4 linked regions of the Homo sapiens genome follow. The protein of the gene in region 2 interacts with the protein of the main gene of each other region in a pairwise test. Each region holds a gene or a part of one and is shown on either strand. Other genes may lie near its edges. The genes, in order: HIBADH, EFNA5, SGPL1 and SLC13A4.

What was found.
Region 1: the proteins of EFNA5 (region 2) and HIBADH interact in binary tests that used the Homo sapiens proteins (3 or more experiments, as listed by UniProt).
Region 3: the proteins of EFNA5 (region 2) and SGPL1 interact in binary tests that used the Homo sapiens proteins (3 or more experiments, as listed by UniProt).
Region 4: the proteins of EFNA5 (region 2) and SLC13A4 interact in binary tests that used the Homo sapiens proteins (3 or more experiments, as listed by UniProt).

Annotation. Positions count from the first base shown.
Region 1 is NC_000007.14:27,659,882-27,666,858, reverse strand, and holds the start of HIBADH (3-hydroxyisobutyrate dehydrogenase, mitochondrial isoform 1 precursor), read left to right. Parts: upstream 1-3,975; 5' UTR 3,976-4,070; coding exon 4,071-4,161; intron 4,162-6,977.
Region 2 is NC_000005.10:107,376,359-107,380,937, reverse strand, and holds the end of EFNA5 (ephrin-A5 isoform 1 precursor), read left to right. Parts: 3' UTR 1-4,044; downstream 4,045-4,579. UniProt on the Homo sapiens protein: Cell surface GPI-bound ligand for Eph receptors, a family of receptor tyrosine kinases which are crucial for migration, repulsion and adhesion during neuronal, vascular and epithelial development.
Region 3 is NC_000010.11:70,818,938-70,825,972, reverse strand, and holds part of SGPL1 (sphingosine-1-phosphate lyase 1), read right to left. Parts: intron 1-7,035. UniProt on the Homo sapiens protein: Cleaves phosphorylated sphingoid bases (PSBs), such as sphingosine-1-phosphate, into fatty aldehydes and phosphoethanolamine. Elevates stress-induced ceramide production and apoptosis.
Region 4 is NC_000007.14:135,725,175-135,732,173, reverse strand, and holds the start of SLC13A4 (solute carrier family 13 member 4), read left to right. Parts: upstream 1-3,987; 5' UTR 3,988-4,677; coding exon 4,678-4,776; intron 4,777-6,999. UniProt on the Homo sapiens protein: Sodium:sulfate symporter that mediates sulfate reabsorption in the high endothelial venules (HEV).

The sequences.
Region 1 (6,977 bases), on a different chromosome or scaffold from region 2:
GGTTCACGCCATTCTCCTGCCTCAGCCTCCCGAGTAGCTGGGACTACAGGCGCCCGCCACCACACCTGGCTAATTTTTTTGTATTTTTAGTAGAGACGGGGTTTCACCGTATTAGCCAGGATGGTCCCGATCTCCTGACCACGTGATCCGCCCGCCTTGGCCTCCCAAAGTGCTGGGATTACAGGCTTGAGCCACCTCGCCCAGCGCTTCGTAGCTTTTTAAATCCCAGTCTAGTTTCTCTCTGTTTAGATTAGATAGTTTCTACTGTTCTATCTTCTAGCTCAGTGATTCTTTTCTTTATTCTGCTGTTGAGTTAAAAAATTGTATTTCTTGCATTTTTTCAGTTTTAAAATTTCCATTTATTTCTTCTTTATATGTTGTTTCTTTGCTGAGATTTCTTTTTATTTAATTCAAGCATGTTTTATTGTTTTATTTTACTTTTTGAGAAGGAGTCTCACTCTGCCATCCAGGCTGGAGTGCAGTGGCGTGATAGCTCACTGCAACCTCCGCCTCCTGGGTTCAAGTGATTCTCCTGCCTCAGCCTCCTGAGTTGCTGGGATTACAGGTGCCCACCACCACACCTGGGTAATTTTTGTATTTTTTTGGAAGAGATGGGGTTTTACCATGTTGGCCAGGCTGATCTTGAACTCCTCACCTCAAGTGATCTGCCAGCCTCGGCCTCCCAAAGTGCTAAGATTACAGGTGTGAGCCACCATGCCTGGCCTCAAGCATGTTTTAATTGCTTCTTGAAATATTTTCTGATGGATGCTTTCAAATCTTTGTTAGATAATTTTAACTTGTCATCTCAGTGTTGGCATCTATTGTCTTTTTTATTCAGCTTGAAATCTTCCTGGGTTTTGGAATCATGAGTCATTTTTTAATTGAAATTTGGTATCATGAGTGATTTTTTGTTGAAATCTGGACATTTGGGTATTATGATATTTTGGATATTATTTAAACCTTTTATTTTAACTAGTTTTTCTTGACACTGCTCTGGCAGGGGGCATCAACTTGTAAATGGCAACTGGTAGTAGAAGTCTAGGTTCCTTATTCCACCTCTGTTGACACCAAGGGTGGGTGGTTCCTTGTTACTGCTGGGCAATGGTGGGAGTTTCAGCTCCCCACTAGTTGTCCACTGATACTTCCCTAGTTGAGAGGGCTTGGAATGGCTCCTTACTGCCCCCATGTAGCCTCCAGTGACACCATGGAGGGGAAGGGGTGTGACATCCTTACCATTGGGCAGTGATGAAAGCTCTGACTCTCCAATACACCTCCAATTACACCATCTAAGCAGGGAAAGGGAGGGGTACCTCACCACTGTAAGGTAGGAGTGGAAATCCAGGGTCGCCCTGTGGTTTCCAGTGACACTGAGAGTAGGGAAGGATGTGTGTGGAGGATTACTTGTTACTGCCCAGTTGAAGATGAAAATCCCATACCTCTCTTTGGTTTTCTCTGACATCACCTTAGAGGGGTTGAGGAGTAGAGCGATTGGGGTGTTAGGATGCTGGGGTGTCTCATCACAACCTGGAGAGTGTGGAAGTCTAGGCTCCCAACTCAGCCTTTGCTTTATGGGGTGGGGTCAGTGTGTGTATGTATGTGTGTATTGTTTGTCTACAGTGGAGTGATTATCTTCTAAATGTTTCCTTTCTTGCTAGGCCACTCCTTTTTCATCACTTGGCTAGAAAGAGCAGCCTTTTATTGGGGCACTTTTTGTCTATCTATGCTTCCTGGCATTTTGGGGTTTCTGGTTTTGGCTTCTCCAGCACCCAGTTTGGGGTATATAAGGCTACATGAAAACCCAAGGAACTTCCCACCGTGTTGCTCTCTGGACCCTAGCCAGTGTGACTTCTCTCCACCTTTCAAAGTCTCCCTATGTTTATCTTATATATAATGTTGAGTTTTTAGTTGTACTTAGAAGAATAGGGAGAAACCTATCTACTCCATCTTCCTGGAAGCGGAAGTCAGGGGCCACTATAAGGCATTGAAACAATTACAAACAAAAATGCGTGGCAAAGACTCAGGGAGGAGTTGCAGTGCCTTTCAAACAAGGGCATCAGGAGGGCAATCAAATGAAGAAAGCTAACCAGCCATAGGCAGGAACTGCATTTGCCAGTACAATAATATCTGCAAGCACCTTCAAACAGTAAGAATTACTTAAAAATTCATAACGCTTCTTTAAAATCATGGAAACCTATGAAAATTCCTTAGTTTATGAATCAATGTAGGGCTTCTTGGAGGAGACATTGTTGGAGAAGACAATGCAGGGCTTCTTGGAGGAGACACAGTTGAAAGACCAATTGCAGTTCAGGAGTTAATTATAGAAACCTGTAGTGCTGGAGGAAGAAAAAGAAAAAGAAACCTGTAGGCCCACATTTGTTGCCTGCAGGAGATCTATTCCAGCTAAAACCTGACGAAACCAGGAAGAGAGGCACAGGTGGGAAATGCTCCAGAAACTAATTTACCCCTAGTAGGGGTGGGGACCCAAATCTAGGAGAAGGTCTAATTGTTGAAATGAGTTTTTTCTCCCTCCCTCCCTTCGTCCCTTTCCTTCCTTCTTTTCATTTAGTGTTGGGTAGAGGGTTGGGGTGGAGTGATGGTCAAAGAAGGGCATTAACTTCCTCCCAGTTACAGATAGGGACCTTGCACTCTGTACAAGTTTTTAAGTTTTTGGAAACGTTGCCAGCATGCCCAGAAACATGAAAAGAGCCCAGATGGAAATGATCCAATTCCTTTGCTTTCAACTCCATGGGTTACTGAGTTGAAAAAAAGGTCAAAGTCAAATTTTGTTGATTGTGCTACTTAGATTGGGGTTCGCATTTCCCTAGCTACTCCATACACATTCTCTTTCCTGCTGTATTGCCATTCTCCAAAGGCTATAGTCTTGCTTTGGTGTGGTCATGGCTTCCAACCCTTTGGTGGAGTCAGTGGAGATGAGAAGGCCTGCAATTACCCCCAAGGGGTTTACAGACTCAAATATGTACACTAAGCATTGACAGAAGAATGACTAAATGTCTGTCTCTCTGCACCGCGCAGTGGCTCACGCCTGTAATAACCAGCACTTTGGGAGGCCGAGGCGGGCGGATCACTTGACGCCAGGAGTTTGAGACCAGCCTAGGCAAAATGGCGACACCCCGCCTCTACTCAAAGTGCCAAAAAAATTAGCCGGGTGTGGTGGCGCACGCAGGCCTATAGTCCCACCTCACCTACTCCGGAGGCTGAAGCAGGAGAATCACTTGAACCCGGGAGGCGGAGATTGCAGTGAGCCGAGATCGCGCCACTGCACTCCAGCCTGGGTGACAGAGAGACTCCGTCTCCAAAAAAAAAAAAGGTCTTTCTAATACACATACATATACTACTACTTTCTGGATTTTATATTTAGTTTTGCTTACAAAATGGATTTAGGGTGTAGAATTTTCAAAGATTAGAGAAATATGCCTTGAAATAGAAAGTGCAAGTTTCTAGTAACTCTTCCCTTCAAAGATAATGTTACCAACTTCTTTTCCTACTATTTTTAGTATTGAGAAACTGTTGTGTTAAGTAAAATCAAATGAATTTAAAAGTTATTACACACATGGTAGCTTTCTGAGTGTTTTTCAAGCTGCGAGTCAGTTTTGTCCTTTTTAACACGCAGCGGTTGTGGGGACAAGGTTTCCGAGGAGGCGGGAGCGAGCGACGGCCCCCGCCTCCCACACGCCCTCTGCTTTGGTAAACAAGGAGACTCCCGCCCGCAGGCTGTAAATGAGGCACGAGCTTGGGGGCAGCGCCAGGGCGCCTGGCGTCACTGTTCAAAAAGGCCTCTTATTGGTCCTTCGCACAGCTGCGGACCTGGGAATTCTGATTGGTCTGCTTCCCTGTCCGTAAAGGGATTGACAGGCCCTGCCGCGTCAGGCCGCTCCTCTCGGCTCCGCGCTCCTTCCCTCGCGCGTGGGCACCCGCCCCCGAGCGGTGAGAGCGCGTGCGCGCGCGCCCTTCTCCGTGGGCGAGCCAGCCAGTCCCGCTGCACACGCTCGCAGTCTGTGGGCCCTCCGGGAGGCGGCGGAGGTCACCGCGGGGAGAGGGGCGGGCGCAGCATGGCAGCCTCCTTACGGCTCCTCGGAGCTGCCTCCGGTCTCCGGTACTGGAGCCGGCGGCTGCGGCCGGCAGCCGGCAGCTTTGCAGCGGGTAAGGACCTCACGCCTCCTCCCCCTTGTCCTTCTTTCGGCCGCTCGCTTCTTCTGTCCAGACGGCCGAAGAAGTCTTTTCTCGGGAGGCCCTGCGGTTGGGCTGGGGCTTAAAAAACAATATTTTGGCTGGTACTAAAGGCCTGTCCTTTTCTGCGGCCGCCACTCACTCCGCGAGTACCCCCCTCTGCCTTCCCTCCCTTTCTCCCGGGCTCCTGATGAACGGGTTCAGCGCCCTTTTCGGGATTTAGGAAGAGGTGGGGAAGAGCTTGGGCTGAAGAGAAGAGAGTATTTGGGACCCCGGCATGCTGCTTTGGAGTTAGGACTCCGAGGACGTTTGGAGCGCCCAACTCCAGGAGCAACCCGCACTCACCCCAGCGACCCCTGGTCTTTCAGCGCCCCCAGGGTGCACCTTGGGTTGGGGACACACTTGGGCAGCAGGGCCTGATGTTTAACCACCTGAGTCCGAGGGGATGGCCTTATTACACAAGCGGTGGCTGTACAAGCCAGGCAGTAAGTCTTTCAGCAAAGTTTCAGTCACCCTTGACCAGCAAGACGGGCTTCCCCCCTCTACTGTAACCTAAAAAAATGTCATTTTTGTCAAATTATGAACCAAAACACGTTCAGCGTCCTCAAGATTGTGGGCAGAATTAATCCTGCCTCCCTCCTCTCATACCATGGTAAATTGTGGAAGCTAGCCATGAACTTACAAAGAGGCAGTTTTTAGAGCCAGGATGAAGATCCACGGAGATCTAATACAGTCTTTCATACTCCGCACGAGGGACATGAGGCCCCTTGGATGAGTGAATCAGGATATTCCCAGCAAGACCTAGAAAGTTGTTATCAGTTGTTCCTAATTCCTTAACTTTCTATCACACCAGGACTCCTCTTTAATTGAAAAATTGGTTGATTTGTGGGGGCACTGCCGTTGTCTTCCTCAAACTGAAAGTTTGAGAGTTGTAACAATGCATCGTTTAGCAAGATCATACTGAGGATTAATAACAAAAAAAACCTTGGCATTAATTTTTTCTAATCTTTGCTTAAAAAAAAAATAGTGGGTTAGGATTTGAGCCCCTTGGCCCCCCGCCCTTTTTTTTTTTTTTTTTTTTTTTTGAGACAGGGTCTCTGTCGCCCAGGCTGGAGTGCAGTGGCCCAGTCACACTGCTCACTGCAGTCTCGACCTCCTGGGCTCAGGTGATCCTCCCACCTCAGCCTCCCGAGTAGCTGGGATTACAGGCATGTGCCACCACGCCCGTCCAATTTTTGTATTTTTAGTAGGGACGGAGTTTCGCCATGTTGCCCAGGCTGGTCTTGAACTCCTGCGCTCAAGTGATCCTCCCAAAGCGTTGGGATTATAGGCATGAACCACTGTGGCTGGCCAGGAATTGTAAGAACTTTCTCTTACAATTCTTAACAGCTTCCCATTCTCCCCCTCAGTGAAACCTCTGAATTTCCTTTCTGGCTGGAGAAGAACAGAGGCTCGGTGAGATGCAAGAGACCAGATGTCTGATACAGAACCACAGTAACAAGATAAAAACTCAGAATATGCCAAACTTGAATGTAACCACTGTTTGAGCTTCATATATTGAGCTACAAAAATGCTTCCGACTTTTGAGATAACCCTAAAAGAATAGACACTTTTCCACAGTAGCACCAGTTTTCACATGAATTCACAATTCTTTCAGTTCCCATTAGCCAAGGAAGACATATTTGCTGTTTAGTGGTTTTACAAGGTGTTCTAATGGTATTTTAATGAACCCTTGATGTACCTTTTAGAGTTATGAAAGTTCTTACCAATTCATGGTGAAAGAGCCTGAGGCCTAAGACTGTAATACGTGCCTCTGTAAACTGGGAGGGCCTACCTCAGAGTGCTGATTAGACTACTTTGGCATATGGTCTTGTACTTTGGGTTCTTTGGCCCAAAGGTAATTGTCAGAATATAGATTTCTGATAAATTTTAAATAGTTCTTTTGTGATGAAGTGGTTAAATCACTTAAGCAATTTTTTTTTCTCTTGAAAAAAATTTTTTTTTTTCCCTCGGAGTCTTTGTCTGTCGCCCAGGCTAGAGTGCATTGGCGCAATCTCAGCTCACTGCAAGCTCCGCCTCCCAGGTTCACGCCATTCTCCTGCCTCAGCCTCCGGAGTACCTGGGACTACAGGCGCCTGCCACCACGCCCGGCTAGTTTTTTGGTATTTTTTAGTAGAAACGGGGTTTCACCATGTTAGCCAGGATGGTCTCTATCACTTGACCTCGTGATCCGCCCGCCTTGGCCTCCCAGAGTGCTGGGATTACAGGCGTGAGCCACTGTGCCCGGCCTTTCTTTGGAATTGTTTTAAACATTTAAATTTCTGTTAATTTTAGTTTACTGCAAAAGTGTTAACTTTTCTGACATTAGATTCTTAAAGAGTAGAAAAAAATCTGCCTGCAAGTTTGGAGTCAAATGACATTAAGAAAAAGAACCATGTTCAGATAGTAATGTGTGATGTTCTGAATTCTGTTGGATATTTGTAGTATGTTTAAGATGTTTATATCATATGAATGATAATATTATAAGGAGCTATATAATTTACTGTTTAAAAAAATGAAACCTGAAAGTTGCCGGTTAGTAGCACATCTTTTTAACTTTTTTATAAATACATTTTAGAGACAGGTCTCCCCGTGTTGTCCAGGCAGGAGTACAATGGCACCTACTTAGCTCACTGCAACCTTGAACTCCTGTACTCAAGTGATCTTCCGCCTCAGCTTCCCAAGTAGTTAGGATTGCAGGGTGCACCACGATACCTAGCTAATTTAAAAAAAAATGTTTTTTGAGACAA
Region 2 (4,579 bases):
TTCTCCTCTAAGAACTCACCTCCGTTAGCGCACTGTGTCAGCGGGCTATGGACAAGGAAGAATAGTGGCAGATGCAGCCAGCGCTGGCTAGGGCTGGGAGGGTTTTGCTCTCCTATGCAATATTTATGCCTTCTCATTCAGAACTGTAAGATGATCGCGCAGGGCATCATGTCACCATGTCAGGTCCGGAGGGGAGGTATTAAGAATAGATACGATATTACACCATTTCCTATAGGAGTATGTAAATGAACAGGCTTCTAAAAGGTTGAGACACTGGTTTTTTTTTTTAATATGACTGTCTTAAAGCATTCTTGACAGCAAAACTTGTGCTCTCTAAAAGAAGCCTTTTTTTTTTTTCTAGGAGGCAGGTTGGGTGTGGAATGCTAATACAGAGCAGGTGTGAAAACAGAGAAAACTACAGGTTTGCTGGGGGTGTGTATGTGTGAGTGCCTCTAATTTTTTTGGTGACTGGGCAGTGCACACCAGATATTTTTTCTTTGAATACAGATCACCATGGTGCTACAACTTTTTTTTTTTTTTTTTTTTTTTTTTTTTTTTTTTTTAAGAAACTCAAAGAGGCATTTTTATGAATAAAGTGACCTTCCCCAAGGCTGACAAGCCAGGGTTGATGAGTGCATAGTGGAATAGCTTTGGATACTCCTCTGGGGGATGACATGTACCAAGGAGAGGACCGCAGTGGCCAGAGGAGACATGATTTGGCTTTGCTGGAGCGCCAGTGTGCTGTGGCCTTTCCCCGCCTCCCACCCTAGTACCCACGTTTTGCTCCACACTCCTTGACCGCAGGGGCTCGGACACAAACCCCTGTCACCAGGAGAGTCAGTCAGCACTACTTGGGAGGGCTAAAGGGAAATTTGGAAATAAAATTCCAAAGTTTGGAGTAAAAAAATTCAAGTGTTGATTTTATATTCTTTCCCTTTCTGACACAGCCTAAAGCGTAGGGGGAACATGTGTTTATCTGTGGGAGATAAACAAGATGGAGTCCCAAAGACTTTAACAAAATATTTTTTTAAAAATCCACTAGAATAGAAAATACATTATTTAGATATACTTTATGCTGAGAGTGAGTATATATGCTTGTCCTATTTAAACTTGTGAGAAAAAGTGGTATCCCTTGATACATTTAGAAATATGGGGGCTATCTTGTTTCATTGTGGGGGTGGGGCAGAAGGAGAATAAATGCAGGATGACCCTGTTGAAGGAATCTTAGCATGGCCAACAGGGGACGTTTCCAGTCGATTACCAGGAAATGCAAGCCTTGGGGTTTCTACTGGTGGTGGGGCTGTCATGAACTTTAAAATCCAAAGCCTAGACAAGGAAAAGTGTTAGACCAATTGAAAAGCAATCCAGCCCTTTTTTTTTTTTTTTTTTTGGCTTTGCACGACATGTCAACAGAAACCATGCCTTTCAATATAAGAAATAAATGTGATGATCATGTAAAATGTGAAAAATTGAAAGCATTCCAGCAAAATAAGAATTTTTTATATATTTGTTTTTTAAGATGTATATGTTAAAAAAAGAGAAGGTCGCATTATGGACAGACTTCGTGAATGGGAATTTGCTTAGAATTGTGAGTAGTTCTGAATTAGAAAAGTATGTGAAGGAAAGGCAGCTGTAAACGTATTGTGCCCTGGAGAGTTGTACACATGTTGAAATGTAATCTGGGCTTACCTGATCCATTTGGAGTGGATGTCACTGCCGAGTCTGTTCTCACATGGAACCATGTGTGTGGGGTTGCCAGCCTCACAGATACAATCAATCCTATTCCCCTCTGACATAAGGAACTCCTCTGGAGTGGCAGAGTCTTATCACAGAAGGCAGCCACCATTTCACCAAAACAAAAGTTCACGGCATTCAATTCCTTTTTCCTTTAGCTATTTATATATGCAGTACTCTCAGTCATATGCAGAAATACTTTTTTTTTTTTAATTAATAGTTACAGGCTTGTTGGTCCAGTGGGATTTGGGTAGGGGGAGAAAGATACCTTCTAAAATGGATCAATAGAACCAAAATAATACAGCATGTTCTATAACCACAAGGAAATCAAATGATCCTGTCATGATTCCAGTTAGTCATAACTATGTTAGCAGTGCTAAATGCATTTTAGAAATGGTGACTTCTGTGGTTTTCCTAGCATTTGTCTCTAACAAATGGTGAAATAATTACTCATGGCCCTCTCTGCCATTGTCTTTCATTTTTTCACAGTGAAATTAGACCCCTTTACTTCACCATTCTGCCACTGCAAATTAAGTATAAAGAAAATAGCAAGAGTGTCCACACCAGTAGACAGTAAGCTTCTCTACCTGTAAGTGATGAAATCATAGCTAATGCACTTGCCATGGAGTTTTCAAGATGATTGGTGTCAGACAGTTTTCACTTTGTTTAAAAAGTGTTGGTGGCCTTTTGTGGTGGTGTTACAATCCTCTGGGGGCTTAGGAGGATGTTGATGCAACTTTTAGAAGCTTTTAATTTCAAAAACAACTCAAAAATCTGAAGGACAGTCATAGCTGCCACTCAGCCCCAGTTAGTCAAACCCCAGTGACCTTTGCCCCTGGTTGCCAAGGGCTTTGCAACATCAAGCAGGGAAATAAGGATCTGTCTGTTTAGTGGATACCGTGTATCCTTTAATAGACCAGGTAACAGTTCGTGTTAGTTTAGACTATTGTTTTGTACTGTACTTTCTTGGGTGGCAGAGGAAAGAAAAGTAAAACATTAAAAAAAAAAAAAAAACTGCGTTCTTTAAATTCTGTATTATTAGCAACCTCTGTTGTACATAGTGTTTGATAATAAAGTATTAATTTGATTCTTATGTCTTTTGTAAGTGAGAACAATAGACTTTCAGGATACAAAACATGCATTGAGGCTTTGAAACATCCAATGTGTACCATGGCTGAAAAAAAGAGTCACAAGTGGCTGAGACACTGCTCCATACAGGACTCATGTGTGGTCATTGCCCACCCAATCTTATGACTCCATCATCTTGGGACCTGGAACAACATGACTTTTTTGATCGATATTTTGTCCTCGGTGTTTTCAAGGTCTGATGTTGGAGCCCTGTGGCCCACCCTCCCTTCTCCACCAGCATGTTGGTTTGAAAAGGATAGGGAATTTAGAAACAGTTCTGTACTTTGGTTTGGTTTGGTTTTCTGTTTGTGATTGTTTTCATGGACTGTTTTATTTTTTCCCAGGAAGAGTCTTTATCAATATCATGTGCAGCTCACTCATGGAAATGGTTGCAAACCAATCAGTGTAGGAAGCTTAAATGGGGCTGTTTCCCTCTCTGTGTCGTTGTGAAAGGAAGAGTCACACAGTACCTGTGGATTTTCAGGGACTCTGTTTTTCTCCGGTGCCTTAGCAACGGCAGCAGCCATTTGTATTATTTTCAAATAATTAGAAAAACAGTTTTCAACTCCTCCTTTCCATTCATTGCTCTCAGAGTTGTGGTCACTGACTTTTCTTTTGAAAACCGCCTCCACCAACACCCCCGTTTGCCTACACCACCCCCCTTTTACTTAGTATGTTTATTTTTTGTGTGTCTCTTGCCTTCCTCCCACGTTTTATTTCCCCTCAGAGCTGTGAATGGGCAGGTCTGTCTCTGGTTTGGCATCACTGAGTTTTTCCCATGCATTGGCCCCAGGGCTGCTAGGATGTGAGACAAATCTCCCTACAATGGGCTTGCTCCCATTGTCTGTACAGTTTAATAGATGCTGGCATGTCGGAGGTTACCCATGAGTCAAAATCCGCTCTCCATGCTTACTCTTGACACCCCATTGAAGCCACTCATTGTGTGTGCGTCTGGGTGTGAAGTCCAGCTCCGTGTGGTCCTGTGCTTGTACTGCCCTGCTTTGCAGTTCCTTTGCACTTACTCATCGAGTGCTGTTTTGAAATGCTGACATTATATAAACGTAAAAGAAAATGTAAAAAAAAAAAACCCACACACAAACAAACCCATACGATCTGTATTTGTATATACACGTGTCCGTACAAGTATAACTAAATAAAAATTAAAGATTTTCATCATTTTAATTGGATCCCTCCTTCTACTTGTTTGTTCCTTGAATGATGCCTTTATTTCAGGGGCTACTTGTACTCTGCTGATTTTTCAAAATCTTTGTGGACAGAAAAGATAATACAACATGCACAAGAGAAGGCCTGGGAAGCTCAAAGAATGCAGAGTTAGAAATGGCCAAGTATCTGGGCGCATTCCAGTTATTCTGATGAGAGAATAGTGAGATTTCAGCCTAGTCTCTGTATTTGAGCCTTAAAATAGGCACTATGACAAGCCCTGCATCCTAAAACGACTGTTAAATACAACAGGAGCCAAATACAAATTGTATTCTTTTACTTTAGACATAGTTTTTTCACCCCATCAAGAAAAAGACCAAATAAGCATTTTCCCAGCAAATATACTGGAAGAAGAAAAGAATAACAGTAATGATAATCATAATCTCTTCAGTACTGCCCAAAGCCTCAATTCTCACAATCAAGGAAGAATTAACTTACTACTGTGTGACCTTAGGCAAGTCACACGATATCTTTGGGACTCAGTTTCCTTATCTGT
Region 3 (7,035 bases), on a different chromosome or scaffold from region 2:
TGGCTTCAAGTGATCCGCCCATTTCGGCCTCCCAAAGTGTTGGGATTACAGGCGTGAGCCACCGCGCCAGGCCAGTTTTCTCTTAAAGAAATATATTTATGTCTTTTAAAAAATCTCTATTACTTTAGGTTTTTCTGTTATATACACTCAAACCTAATTCTAGCTGATGCATTCAGTGATCTGGACACATGAAAAATTTTCTAAAAATTAAAGCTGTCCAACAGTGGAAAGAACCCCCTGAGAAAGTATGTAGCACTCACTCCTGACAGGGCATTGTAGAGGGATTCCTAGGCAGCAAGAAAGCTGGACTGCAGTACTTTTAAAGGCCCTCCAGGCAATTAAGATTCTAAGGCTACTACTGGAACAAAGCAGCTTTGGGCTTGCCAAAGCTGTGGCAACTGTGTGCCTCTGAATCTATCCTGTTAAAATCAGTGGGAACATTCCCTTTCTATAATCCATATGCTATCCACCTTCAAGATTCTGTTCAAGAATTATCTCCTCATTTGTGCCTTTTAAGACAAACTAGACCTCTCAACTCCAGCATGCTGGATGTTCTCCCCTCCAGATGATCTCCTCCTCCAGATCCTCCATCCAGCATTTTCCAGCTCGGCTATGTGCCTCCGGATTCCACCCTCTGAATTAAATCAACCAGACTCCTTAACCTCTGGTTTCCAGTTGTATTAGACCAATGGGAGGCTACAGCAGGAGATCAGAGGGTAGCAAAAGAGTTTGAAGTATTTATTCCCCTTGATGCCTTTCCTACTGGGTCACTGGCTGGCATTCCTACAGGTTACCTTCTCCTTCATCTCAACTCTCTCAAAGTTCCAGAAACTACTCCCTTCCTTGCCCTCTCACAGGCTTAAGAGTGTAATCCCAGCTACTTGGGAGGCTGAGGCAGGAGAATCACTTGAACCCAGGAGGCGGAGGTTGCAGTGAGCCGAGATCGAGCCACTGCACTCTAGCCTGGGCGACAGAGCAAGACTTGTCTCAAAAAAAAAAAAAAAGAGAAAAAACAACGTCAGAATAACCAACATGAAAATTTTTTAGGATAACTTGGTGCCTACCTGAAAAATGTATTGTGTTTTAGACTCTTGATTTCAAAAGGTTCCACAGAACTAGTCTGCGCTTACCTTACCCATGTTTATATATAGCTGTCCTACAGGGAGCTTTTATTTAGAAAATGTCTGCATAATGTTAGATTCTTCTCCTGTCTACATTAAGCACTACATAATTGGACTTCATTATGCTTTTGAAATGCTTATCTGCCTGTCACATAAGTTAAACTATTTAATTTGTTTTGAATGTTTTGGATTGCTACATAATACAATATTCTAAATTTAGGCATGAGGGTTTTTTTGTTTTGTTTTTACTTTTTTTTTGTCATCGCACTATGGAACACAAATTAAACTCTCTTAATTTATAAGAAGATAGTTGCAGTTAAATTTTGAAAATGGTTGTAATGAGCCATGAAGTTCAATCTTTGTAATATAGGTATTGCTCTTTCAGACAAATAGTCCATTTTCAATGACTTATTATTTTGTTGAAATTGTGGTCGCTAATCACTTGGTTGCCAAATATTTACTTCAGGAGCAAAGATTTTCAAACAAGCATACATGATGCAAAATACCAATCTGGCTTCTAGTCTCTTTACTGTTTTTGTTTCACTCAGATTAGCTCAGTTTTCTCATCAAAGCAGAATGCTATCTTGTATGTATTTTTTTCATTACAAGACCCATGAGCTGCTTTTATGCTGAAAATGGTCATTTCCCTGTTCACTTACTGACATGTGAAGAAGGGTTTCTTGCTTTCTTAAACATTTCCGTAAGGCAGGCTAGAAATGTAATGCTTCAAATGTTCGATGATTATGGTCTTTTGATAGGAACAGATTCTGCTTGGGATATATATCCAGGCACTCTCTAAGGTCTAGGGTTGATATTAACAAAGGAATGTACTTAGAATAGCAGTACATTTTATGCAAATATGGAAATTATTTTAAGAAACAATGACATATCAAAACTGCTTTTTATTTACATGATTTTGAAATAGACTAGAAAGCTTTCCCTATAGACATATCAATATTCCAATCATAACTTTAATTCAAGAATGCAGTTTTACCAAAAGAAAAATCTGAAAATTTCTATTCAGGCTACTGGAATTGGTTATTAAAAGAAAAAGGAAAAAGAAGAATCTTGCTGCTTTCAGTATTTCCTGATTTTTTTGTAAATATAAAGAGGAACTTCAATTATGAAAAATTTTTAAAAGATATATATATCTATATATCTATATATATGTACTGTTTTGTTTCCTGTCTTGAAGATTTTGAGTTATGGTTATTGGTTTCAGATTGATTAATTCACATATGCTGTGTTTTGAAATGAGATCCCATTAGCTTTTTTTTTTTTTTTTTTTCAATATAAAGTGTTTTCTTTAAAAGTCTGATATTGGTTCGTGGCCTAGTGCCTTGGATTTTACATATTTTTCTTTTTAAATGCAAAACCTTTTCAACAAAATAGTGTTTGTCATCAGGTTGGTACTAAACATTTATAATTACTGTGTAATTATAAACAAAAATACATAAAGCTTTGAATATAATTATGTAGGATAAAAGTTAAGGTTGTTCACTATGATGGCATCTTAGAATTAAACAAAACTTTTACTAGGGCTGAAAAGAGAAGACTGATTTAATGTGGTGTGATTATTCTGAAGATAAATGTCTGGCTACAGGGAATATTTTGTACTAAAAAATGATTACACATATGGCTGTGTGTGTTTGAGTCTGTGTCTGTGAGAGAGCCAGAGAGAGTGAGAGAGATTGACGGAGAAAGGGAGAGACACACACACGCCCCTTGAATTGCTTTAACTCCTAAGTGTTTCAGTCCTCATTCCGGTAAACTCCCCATGCTGATTCTTTGTTTTAAACTGAACCATAGGTACAGTTTCCTTTTTGCCAAATGTCAAAACAGGTACAAATTTTAAAATGTAATGCTTTTTAAATAGAAAAATGTATAAAATTAGAAGTGCCCACATATAAAAAATACTTGAGATGAAGATTATCTTTAGTGAATATCATCTGCATATCTCTGTAAGTTCAATTGTGTTTCTTACAGTCCCTGTCATATTACCAATAGAGGCAATAAAAGCTTCAGTGAAATTGCCATGACAAAAAAAAAAAAAAAAGAGTGATAATGGCTCTCCTATTGCTAGCTAGCCCTTAGATGTTTCACCTAGATGTTTTCCTTAAACCTGCTCAGCCTTGAAAATAGTCCCTTGATCCCTTAGTACGCTGTTGGATTATGCCAAGATATGACTGATATATCCACAAACTACTCGCAGCCTTCACCATTCCATCTTCTCAGAGGGCCCCTATCTCCCCTTCCCCCACAGCATGGTTTTTATCTCAGTAATTGGGTTCTGTACATTTACACATACAGACTGATTCACATCAATTCCCTATGGAAATTCTTAAACCCAGGCTGATTCTCAATTCTGCCACCAATGTGCACAAACTGTATATAATATTAGATTGGGTAAAACCTAATTAAGAAGGTAAATATTACTAAAAATTCCTGACACATAGACTGAAAAGCTAAGTCAAATACTGGGATTTGGATTCTATCTGTTTATAACCCTCTTTTCCTTTAAACCAAAGGCTGTGGAAATTATTACAGCTCTGTTTCATCTATAACACTGGGAGATTGCCAAATACAGTGTTCATCCTGCAATGGCCACTCAAATGTCAACAAATTTTTTAATGTCCTATCAACAATCCCAATGAATTTTCCCTTTCTTCTAGCAAATCCTACAAACAAGACACAAGGCTCAAATAATAGAACAGAGCTCCTAAGGTCAATCTTTCAGTTTATTGCTTAAATCCCACTTGAGATTCAGAAAGAAAGCATCCCTGAAAAAGAGTCAAGGGTCACAGATAAAGACGCTCAAGGACCTGGAAAGATTCAATTTTTGAACCCAAAAAACAAAACTGAGGGAAGCTTGCTGTTTGCAAATCAAGAAAAGAGTGGTGCAGAAATGTTGCAAAGGACAGCATTTCTTAAGAATTCTGCATTGCTATAAAAGATCAGCTGCACCATCTCCAATATATATTCCTGAGCAGCAAGGCTTGACCCATGGGCAAAATAACCCCAAGTGAGACAATAACAGACACGTTAACCTCCAAGAAGGGAATCACTCCCCCACCCATATGAAAGCATAGACTACACAGATATCCAGGTATCTATGGTAAGAAACTTCATACCAGTTTCTCAACCTCACCACTATTGACATTCTAGGCCAGATAATTCTTGTTTGCAGGAAACTGTGCGTTGTAAGGTGTTTGGTTGCATCCCTAGCCTCTACCCACTAGATGCCAGCAGAACCCTTCAGGTGTAACAACCCAAAATGTCTCTAGGCATTGTCAAATGTCACCCAGAGGGCAAAATTGCCCCTGGTCAAGAACCACTGCCCTAGATAAGCAATTATCACTCAAACCCCACCTAGCACTACCAGGGTGCACACGCTAACCTTGATTCATCTATGAATATCAGCTAATTTAGTCATCATTTTCTGATGAGAAAAGAAAAAAGCCACCTAAGGGGTAGACTGGCTTTATAAAATACCTTTTTCTTAAAAACTACAAATATTTGGCAACTTGCAAAGTGATACCACCCTCTAGCACCAAGGAGGAGAGTATGAATAAAAAGAATGGTTGCCAAGGGGGAGAAAGGCTGCTACAAAGCTGTCTGACTTGAATTCCCTCTGACATCATCACAACTCTCAGCAGATGAACATACTCATTTTATTCTCTATGAGACACAGGTGGAAAGTACTGCAGTCTATGACACATCACATACGAGCAAATGGAAAAAGGCAAGCAAACTATCCTAATCAAATGATAACAAAATTGAGGGCAGGAACACACTGAGGGCTGATAGCCCGAGCCTGTCAGTCTGGATTCAAGGCTTGTTATATGTGGACTCCAGGTCATCTCCAGGTTTTCTCTCACAGCATACTGTCCACACAAGTAGTCTTCAACTCTATGACCCAATGCCCTCTTTTTATAACAAATATTCTGTAATCCCTTTTGCTACTCTGACATGGCATTTAAAGATTATAACACTATGCCTGCAGATACAAGTTTTAAAATTTCAATATAATTCATTAAATGCGACGTAAAAGAAAATAAAACACAAATTTTTTTTTTTTTGAGACAGTCTCGCTCTGTCGCCCAGGCTGGAGTGTAATGGTGCAGCTTCAGCTCACTGCAACCTCCACCTCCCGGGTTCAAGCAACTCTCTTGCCTCAGCCTCCTAAATAGCCGGGAATACAAGTGTACGCCACCATGCCCAGCTAATTTTTGTATTTTTAGTAGAGACAGAGTTTCGCCATGTTGACCAGGCTGGTCTAGAACACCTGGCCTCAAGTACTCTGCCCGCCTGAGCCTCCCAAAGTGCTGGAATTACAGGCATGAGCCACCACGCCTGACCCAATAAACAAGATTTAATAATAATTTAATAATAAAACATGTATTTTCAGACTACACTAGAAGAAAAAAGACTCCCTCCTCCCCCAGTCCCCCATTGCCAAAGTGCCCCCTAGAGGGTGGAGCTATCCTATCCCATCTGCTCCACACAGACCCTCTCCCATCAGTCACAATGGTCAGCAACCTCTACCCTTACCAGGGGTAAGGACACAAAGTAGGCAAGAGGGAGGGATCTGAAGTCAGACCAACTGAGGTCAAACTTGGCTCCACCACTCAACTGCTGTAGTTACTCTCTATAAGCCTCGTTTTTCATCTGTAAAAGAAGGATACCAAAAGGTTTTTGTGAAAATTAAATAAGTACAGTATTCCTACACTTAACATGTAATACATGCTCAATAAATGTTAGCTATCAGAGTTAACATTACTATTCCTGAATCCACCTTGTATTGTTTCCTAGCTTTTGCTCACTTATTCCATTAGCAGAAAAGACGGGAGACTGGATATCCATTTACCAGAGATACTCTTCAACAGATTCATGTATAATATAAGCTGCATCACAGGCCAGGTACAGTGGCTCATGCCTGTAATCCAGCACTTTGGGAGGCCAAGGCAGGCGGTTGGATCCCTTGAGCCCAGGAGTTAGATACCAGCCTGGGTAACATGGCAAACTACCATCTCTACAAAAAATAAATACAAAAATCAGCCGGGCATGGTGGCATGTGCCTGTCGTCCCAGCTACTCAGGAGGCTGAGGTGGAAGGATCATCTGAGCCTCAGAGATTGAGGATGCAGTAAGCTGAGATCATGCCACTGCACTCCAGCCTGGGCATCAGAGTGAGACCTTGTCTCAAAAAAAAAAAAAAAAAAAAAGCTGCATCCCATGACTTCTAAGACTATTTCTAATTCTGAGATGCTGCACTGCACTGAGGTTATTTTTTTATTCACTTAGGTCCTTTCTTCCCAGGTGGAGGGCCAAGAACATGTTTTACATATCATATAAAGTAGCTTGAGAAACACCTCATAGAATGATGGGTTAGTGTGCCACTGAAAACCCAGCCATGGTTATTGGTTCTTTACCAGTTAGTTCCAAATAGCATTATACATTACAGTCAAGGAATGAATGACAACTTTTCCAGTGAAAGCACTTCATGCAACATGTATGTTGTCTTCAGAAAGTGATGACTGCCTAGGGCCACTCGCATCTATGTGGATTAATTCCTTACAGCAACAAGCAAAGCAACACTCCTAAACATTCTAAATTAACAGGTGAGGAGGTGAAAGGTGGTGGCAACAGCTAGAGAAATACCTCAAAAGAAAACTGATTCCAAAGTTAATATTCCGAGTAAAAGCAGTCATTGTTCTGTTAAAGTAAATGCATAGGCCCTATAAGTAATAACCATATCTCTGTGCATGGGGAAATATCTTACATATAAGAACCTATAATTTACATAAACATATCCTTCTGTAAGAGGATAAACAGAAACTGTCAATTGCTACAAGTCACTCTGCATTAACCATCCAAGATGCTCACAGCGGTTATTTCTGGGTGATAAATTACTG
Region 4 (6,999 bases), on a different chromosome or scaffold from region 2:
TTGTTACCAATGTAACTTGCCCTTCACAGTCTGTTCTTTCTTAGCTGGCCATTGCCTACAAACTACGATAGCCAGGTTTGTTATAATTCTATGTTAAATAAGAGTTAATAGATGAAGTCCTCTGCTAGGGGTCGAGCGTCTGGGTCCTAATAAGGATTCCTCATTAGCTCAGAGATCTTTCTGTCTTCTCCTAAGTTTACAGCTGAGCTCAGCAAGCAAAAGCTGCAACAAGTCTGATCTTTGAATGAGTGAGGATTTATTGGGCTAAATTTGATTCTGAAATGGGTATTTAACAGTTGTCATTTGATAATGATGAGGTCTGGACTCCTTCAAAATCTTTGAGCAAATAAGCTTTGCATAGCAGTGCTAGCCGCATGATCTTTTTGGAGAAATACTAGGACACTGGAAGAAGGTATTCATCATCAGAGAAAAACACAGCTTTGCATCCTGATATTCTCAGGCTCAGAAGATTAGTAAGTCTCAGTTTCTCTTTCTCATTCCCTGACCATTCTGCTCTTTTACCTCCTCCAAATGCAGATTCTGATATATGCTTTTTTTGTTCAATCTTTCTTTTTCTAAATGTACATATTCTCTCTGACATGGTCACTCTGCTTGTCTCTGTCTTTCTTTCTTTTATTTTAGTTGGTATCTCTGCTGCTGTATATTTGGGCCCAATTCCAAATATCTCTGTATCTGTTTTTTGATGCATCTCCAAGACTCTTCTGCTTGACTTTTGCTCTATCTCTGCTGACCCACACTCTAACACTCACTGTCTGTCAGTCTTCTCTGGGTATCATTGTCTAAGTAAAACACAAGTCAGTGTACAGACAGCGTTGGGATCGGCCAGAGGCAGATAAACATGGTAGCCTATCTTCACAGTTTGTACTTTTCCTAGATGTCAGATGGGGAGTGGATTAGCAATGGCCTCAGTCCCTAGACACTGTGCAATACCCTGATAGTCAGTCTTGTATCCCGCCCCGAGGCTCCACTCCCTTGACAATGGATCTGAAAGCTTTCTTGTACTCAGAATCATCAGATGGAAAGGCCCACCCTTGTAGTCCCTGACCACCATGTTATGTAGATGGCTGCTCCCAGTAGTAAGAAATCCATGAATGGGAAGATGGTTCCCAGGAACATTCACCCAGCAACAAAAAAATTAAACACAAATTGGGGCTTGAATTTTTGTGGCAATCAATGACTGAAAAAAAAATAGAAAAAAGAAGGACATGACCTTTTTAAAGACAAATGAAGACTCATTTTCAGTAACTAGAGTCTTAAAAACTATTTTAATCTGAATGCAGATCATTGTTTACCCACAGAGAGTTTTATGACAATGATTTCACTGACATGCAGAATCAAATATTATGATCACCACCAGCAGCCAAAAAACCCTATTCTTTGCCCAAGGAGTAGTAGAAATGTAGACTAGACAGACAAACAGGGTCTCCTATTTTGCCTCATTAGTGCCACACTCTATACAACTACAGTCACGAAGGGGTCACATTTGGTTATAATTACTATTAGAATAATATGGGAGTGTGATGTTTGTGGTGGAAACTTGCCCATGACTTATGTAACCATTTCTGCTGACAAATTTTAGGATCTAAAAACTTTGTGGGTTTTTTTGTTTTGTTTTTGTTTGTTTGTTTTTGGGACAGTCTCGCTCTGTCACCCAGGCTGGAGTGCAGTGGCACCTCCGCCTACAGTGTTCAAACGATTCTCCCACCTCAGCCTCCCAAGTAGCTGGGACCACAGGCACACGTCACCATGCCCTGCTAATTTTTTTGTATTTTTAGCAGAGATGGGGTTTCACCATGTTGGCCAGGCTGGTCTCAAACTCCTGACCTCAAGTGGTCCACCTGCCTCAGCCTCCCAAAATGCTAGGATTACAGGCGTGAGCCACCGTGCCTGGCCCAGGATCTAAAAACTTTCTAAGTTTCCTCCATCGTTGGCATCCTCACAGCTATCTCCAATGTCACTCAAGAGACATCAACAGACATTTAACTGCTGCAGACTTCATTGCTCTGTCACCTCACCTTGAATCTAACAAATCAAAGTATTTCTGCAGGTCCAATGGTCTAAAATCAAATGCTTGTTAAATGACTTTTTACAACACCCCTTACTTTCCTAATCCATTTCAATCTTATTTTTTTTATTGTGGTAAAAAACACATCAGGTAAAATGTACCATCTTAACCATTTTTAAGCATATGGTACAGCAGTGTTAACTCCATGCATGTTGTGAAACAGACCCCCGGAACTTTCTCATCTTGTAATTCTGAAGTTCTATACCCACCGAACAACTCCTCTTTTCCCCTTCCCCCTGCCTGCCCCAGCTCTTGGCACCATTATTCTGCTTTCTGTTTTTGAGAGTCTGACTACTTAAGATACCTCATACAAGCGGGATCTGGCTTACATTTCTTGAGCATTGTATTCTGGAAAAGTGTTTCCTTCCTCTGAAAAATGGGTAGAGTTCTGAAGGAGAACTACTGGTCTTATTGTACACTTGCTGTACCTATTTTTATTTAACAAATATTCATCTATGGTATAATAAAGATGTCATGATTGAGTTGCTCACTGGAATCTTTGTTATCTCAGAGTATCTCACCGAGGAATTTGGAATGGTTCATGGGTTTAACAGTGGATGTTGACTTCCACAGCTGCTTATAATTATTCGCTGTCTTTAATGTTTGCGACCAAAACATCACACACGTGGTATTGTTCATTCTGAGTTTCAAAATCATAACCAAAAAAAAATGAGGCCAGAATGTAGTAAATACAGTAGCCAGTCTTTAACATGCATTTAAAGAGTTGAGTCATCCTAGCCCATCCTACGATGGCAAGATAATTTCAAAGGGGACCTCAGCTGTCCACAGTTGCACCTGCCTTAAAAGTCAAGAAGAATTTGTTTTTTGGGTCACTTCCCTGGTCACTTTAGCCTGGGGATCATTTCCAAGTAGTATAGTTGCAGATCTTCGAACGCCATTCCTGTGTTCTGTGAATTCAAGACAACATGGGTTTTATAACCCTTTGACTCTGCTCAGCATCTCCCAGATCAAGGTAAGGTAATGTTGCCAAGAACCACTACTTACAGAATGTTTGGGCTTTTGCTTTTGCTTTTCTTCCTTGCCCCAAATCCACATGTCCGTTCTGAGAAAAGAAGCTAACAACTTCTTCCAATCTGTAAACAGGAGAAATTCCAGAGTTCAACTGCAGCTAAGACCTTGTCCCTGAACTTGTCAACTTCTTCCCTGCCCTCCCACCTCCTCCTTTCGTACCAGCCAAAGAAGGTCTTCGGTTTCCTTTTTGGAGAGCCCCAGAGAGAAGCATTTGAGCACCTACTTTAGCCAGAGAGACCACTGACATCTGGGCATGAGACTGGCATCTAGACTTTGCCAGGGAGGCAGCTATACTTCCCAAAAGATCTGGGGTCTTTCTCACGAGCTCATACCCTCTGCTGGCCTAGACCCTTTATATTCCCCCCTCGGTGCTGAGGCAAACGATCTTTGCCAGCAGGGAGGTCTGAAAGGCTTAACTTTGTACACTCTGAGGCAAATTCTCCAGAAGTAATGTTGCATTTTCTCCCTGCCACCAGGCACATTCCCTTCCCAAGGTCTAGATCAGCAGGTGGCCCTCCCAGCGAAAGCTCTGTGTCCTATGATCCGAAACAATAAAGCTGTGCTTGGGTACGTGAGATTATGTTTACGATGATGGTCATCACTCCAGCCCTAGGAAGTTTGAGAAACTGAAAAATAAGCTTAGCAGGCTGCCTAGGTTCTGCGGAATCAGCAGGCCCCCGCTGTGACCAATCAAGAGCGGCCGCGGGGAGAGAAATTGACTCATTCTTTTCAATTTGCTGATTGGCTTTGAGAAGTGGGCGGAGCTACTGTCTCTGTCCCGGCTTCCCATTGGTGGATGAAAGTTAAAGGTGGGCCTCCAGCAAGTTTTGTCCTTTGATAAAAAGGAATGTCTTGGGGACTTTTCTTTTCTGCTTTGCAGGCCCAGGCTCAAGGCAAATTATAAGTAGGGAACCAATTTGAGGGAAAGACATGTGAACAGAGTTAAGGTACCACGTCCTGGGAGCGACCAGCAGCCCCACCTGAAGTCCGCATGCAACTCTGACAAGCTCAGGTGCTTGTTTTAAGGAAAGGGGCTACTAGAGTCTTACCAACAGCGAGCCCAGGTGGGAGATGAAACAGGTACTCCCCAAAATAGGTCATCCGAGGGAGGAAAACTGATGGAGAGCACAATGTGCTCTGAGCGTTTTTAATGTTTTTAAGCTTTTAAATGATTTCTTCAAGGCCGAGCAGCAGCAGCAAAGGTGTGGCTTAAAGGATTAAGGGGGTTTCTGCTGACACCTAGAATGAAGTTACTCTATTACTAATCAAGCCGAGAGGAGGCCCACTATGCCCCCGTTTATCATCCTTTCCCAGTTCCTTTTTGCTGGTCACAAAACGATGCTCATCAATCCCACCTAAAGCAGGAGGCCAGGAGCCCAGCCTCTTGTAGAAACAGCGAGGGTATAACTGCCCTCCCGTTCTGCCCCCAAGACGAAGGAGGACTCTCGGAAGCCAAGAAAGGTTTAAGAAGTCTTTCTGGATAGAGAGCAGTGCCCAGGCAGGAAGCCTTTCGCCGGCAGAGCGGGGTCCAAGGACGAGCTGGAGAGGACAGAGGCGCGATGGGCCTGCTGCAGGGCCTGCTCCGAGTCCGGAAGCTGCTGCTGGTCGTCTGCGTCCCGCTCCTGCTGCTGCCTCTGCCCGTCCTCCACCCCAGCAGCGTGAGTACCGACCTGCGCCCACCGGGGGTCTGGGAGTCAGTGGGAGGGCAAAGAGGGGAGGTCGGTAGGGGAACATGGGGCGCTCAGGCAGTCCCTCAAAGTGGCTTGTGGTGGGTTTAAAGAAATGGAAGGATTTTTCCAGAGGAAACCAAGATATCTTCTTCCTAAAAGCTGTCATGTTCATCTCCTATCCCAGTCCCATTCCCCCAACCCCATGGCCCCCACCGGGGTCAGGACAGAGTAGGGGCCTTGGCAGAAGTGACTGATGGGTGTTGCACCAAGCAGCAGGCCAGCCTGCCCCAGCAGCGGGGGCCAGCGACACCCATGCAAACGACATGGTGCACCTGTGTTTGTCGGGAGTTCACCTGGGACCCTGGTTATCTGAGAGCCCCTGGAGACACAGAAAGAGCTCCCAATAGTGGCACTGAGGAGAAGGTTGGGGGAGGAAGAGAACCGTGGAGCCAATCCGTGGTCTGTGGTCGTGTCCTGGTGGGCTTCGATGACCACAGTTGAAGCTCTAATCCCGAAGGCGCCTATCAACTTCAGGGAATGAATGTTTAGGGAAGGAATGAAAGCAGAACTTAGCAGGCTGCCCTGCTCCCATGCACGTGGCCTTGAATTATTTGTGTCTTCTGTGTTTTCTTCTCTGTCCTCTTGAAGGACAGACAAAAAGTGACACGATAAAAAAGAGATAAGAGCCCCCAAACTCTAGCCCGTGACCTCATTCTTCACCTGGTTTGTGAGAACAGAGGAACCTCAGCTCTGGCTCAGCATCCAGCTTGCCTGTCACACCCTCCTGGTGGTCACCTGCTTCCCTTCCCTTCCCTCCGCTGTTCTCTTCCTCCTGTCTGTGGCTTGTCCCCTTCCCCCAGCTGGCACTGCCCTGGAGACTTTAGGAAAAATAAGCTAAAACAGGTTAATCACGTTTGTAGGAGGGGGAGCAATTCTTCCACTCTGCTCCTTAAGTAACTTGGTAACCAAGATTAAGTTAAACAGTTAAACAGAGGGGATTAGGATGGTTCTTCTTAAAAACAAACTGGCTTAAATCTTTCATAGAATAAATACTCCAGAGTGCCAGGGAGACGCTGATTAAAACTGGGCTGGGATTAGCAGACAGTGATTGCTGCTGACATTCTTCCTGGACTGTACCCTAGTCAATTTTCTGCTTTGTCCAAATGGGCCTGATTTTTTTTCTTTTTGTGGCTTTTCTTGTTTTTGTTTTTTCTCCATGTAGGTTGCTATAAGGGACTGTTACCGAGAGACATACTAGCCTCCTCTCCCAAGCAGTATCAGGAACCTCTCATATCTCCTGGTTGAGGCAGCCCCATCTTTGGGGACCTTGGCCACTGCCCACAGAAGGCACAGACTAGGTGCCCAGCAGGTAGAGTTTCATCCATCCGTCACCCCTTTCATCAAACTTTTTTTTGTAGACGCAGAGTCTCACTCTGTCACCCAGTCCGGAGTGCGGTGGCACAATCGTAGCTCACTGCAGCCTTGAGCTCCTGGGGTTAAGCAATCCTCGTGCCTCAGCCTCTGGAGTAGCTGGGACTACAGGCAAGCAAGTACCACCACATGCAGCTAATTTTTAAAAAAATTTTTTTTGTAGAAATGGGGGTTTCACTATGTTGCCCAGGCTGGTCTCAAACTCATGGTCTGACGTGATCCTCCCAAAGTGTTGAGATTACAGGTGTGAGCCACCGTGCCTGGCCTGCATCAAACTTTTAGAGTCTGATATTTAACCCTTAAAATTCCAAATGGATTTTCTTGCTCTGGACTGGAGTTGAGAGCAGTGATGGAGTACCTGGGCAGGAGCTCCTGGCCTGCAGTTTTGATGGTTCTAAGCGACAAGCCTCAGCTACATTTTAGGAGGAGTCAAAATGACCTTCCCCCTTTTTCTTGCCCAACTCTCTAAAACTAGAGGTCCAGACACTGTTTATCATGTTATAGAAGAAGAGGGTACAAGAGACAGCATCCATAACTAAGCCCTTCCTCAGTGCCCCCAGTGGGATAAAAGTTGCATCTCAACTGCCCAAGCTAAATTTTTTAAAAGGCGCCCCCAGTCATTGATGATAACAGATAACAGACTTCAACCTCCTTCCCGTGAAGTTGGAGTGGGATATCACTGGGGTGGTCAAACTGCGTGGAAAACGAGCAGTTCCACGCCTAAGTGAGTAGCTGACTAGGAAACGTCCTACATGGGGAAATGCCACTTTCGAACTCTTT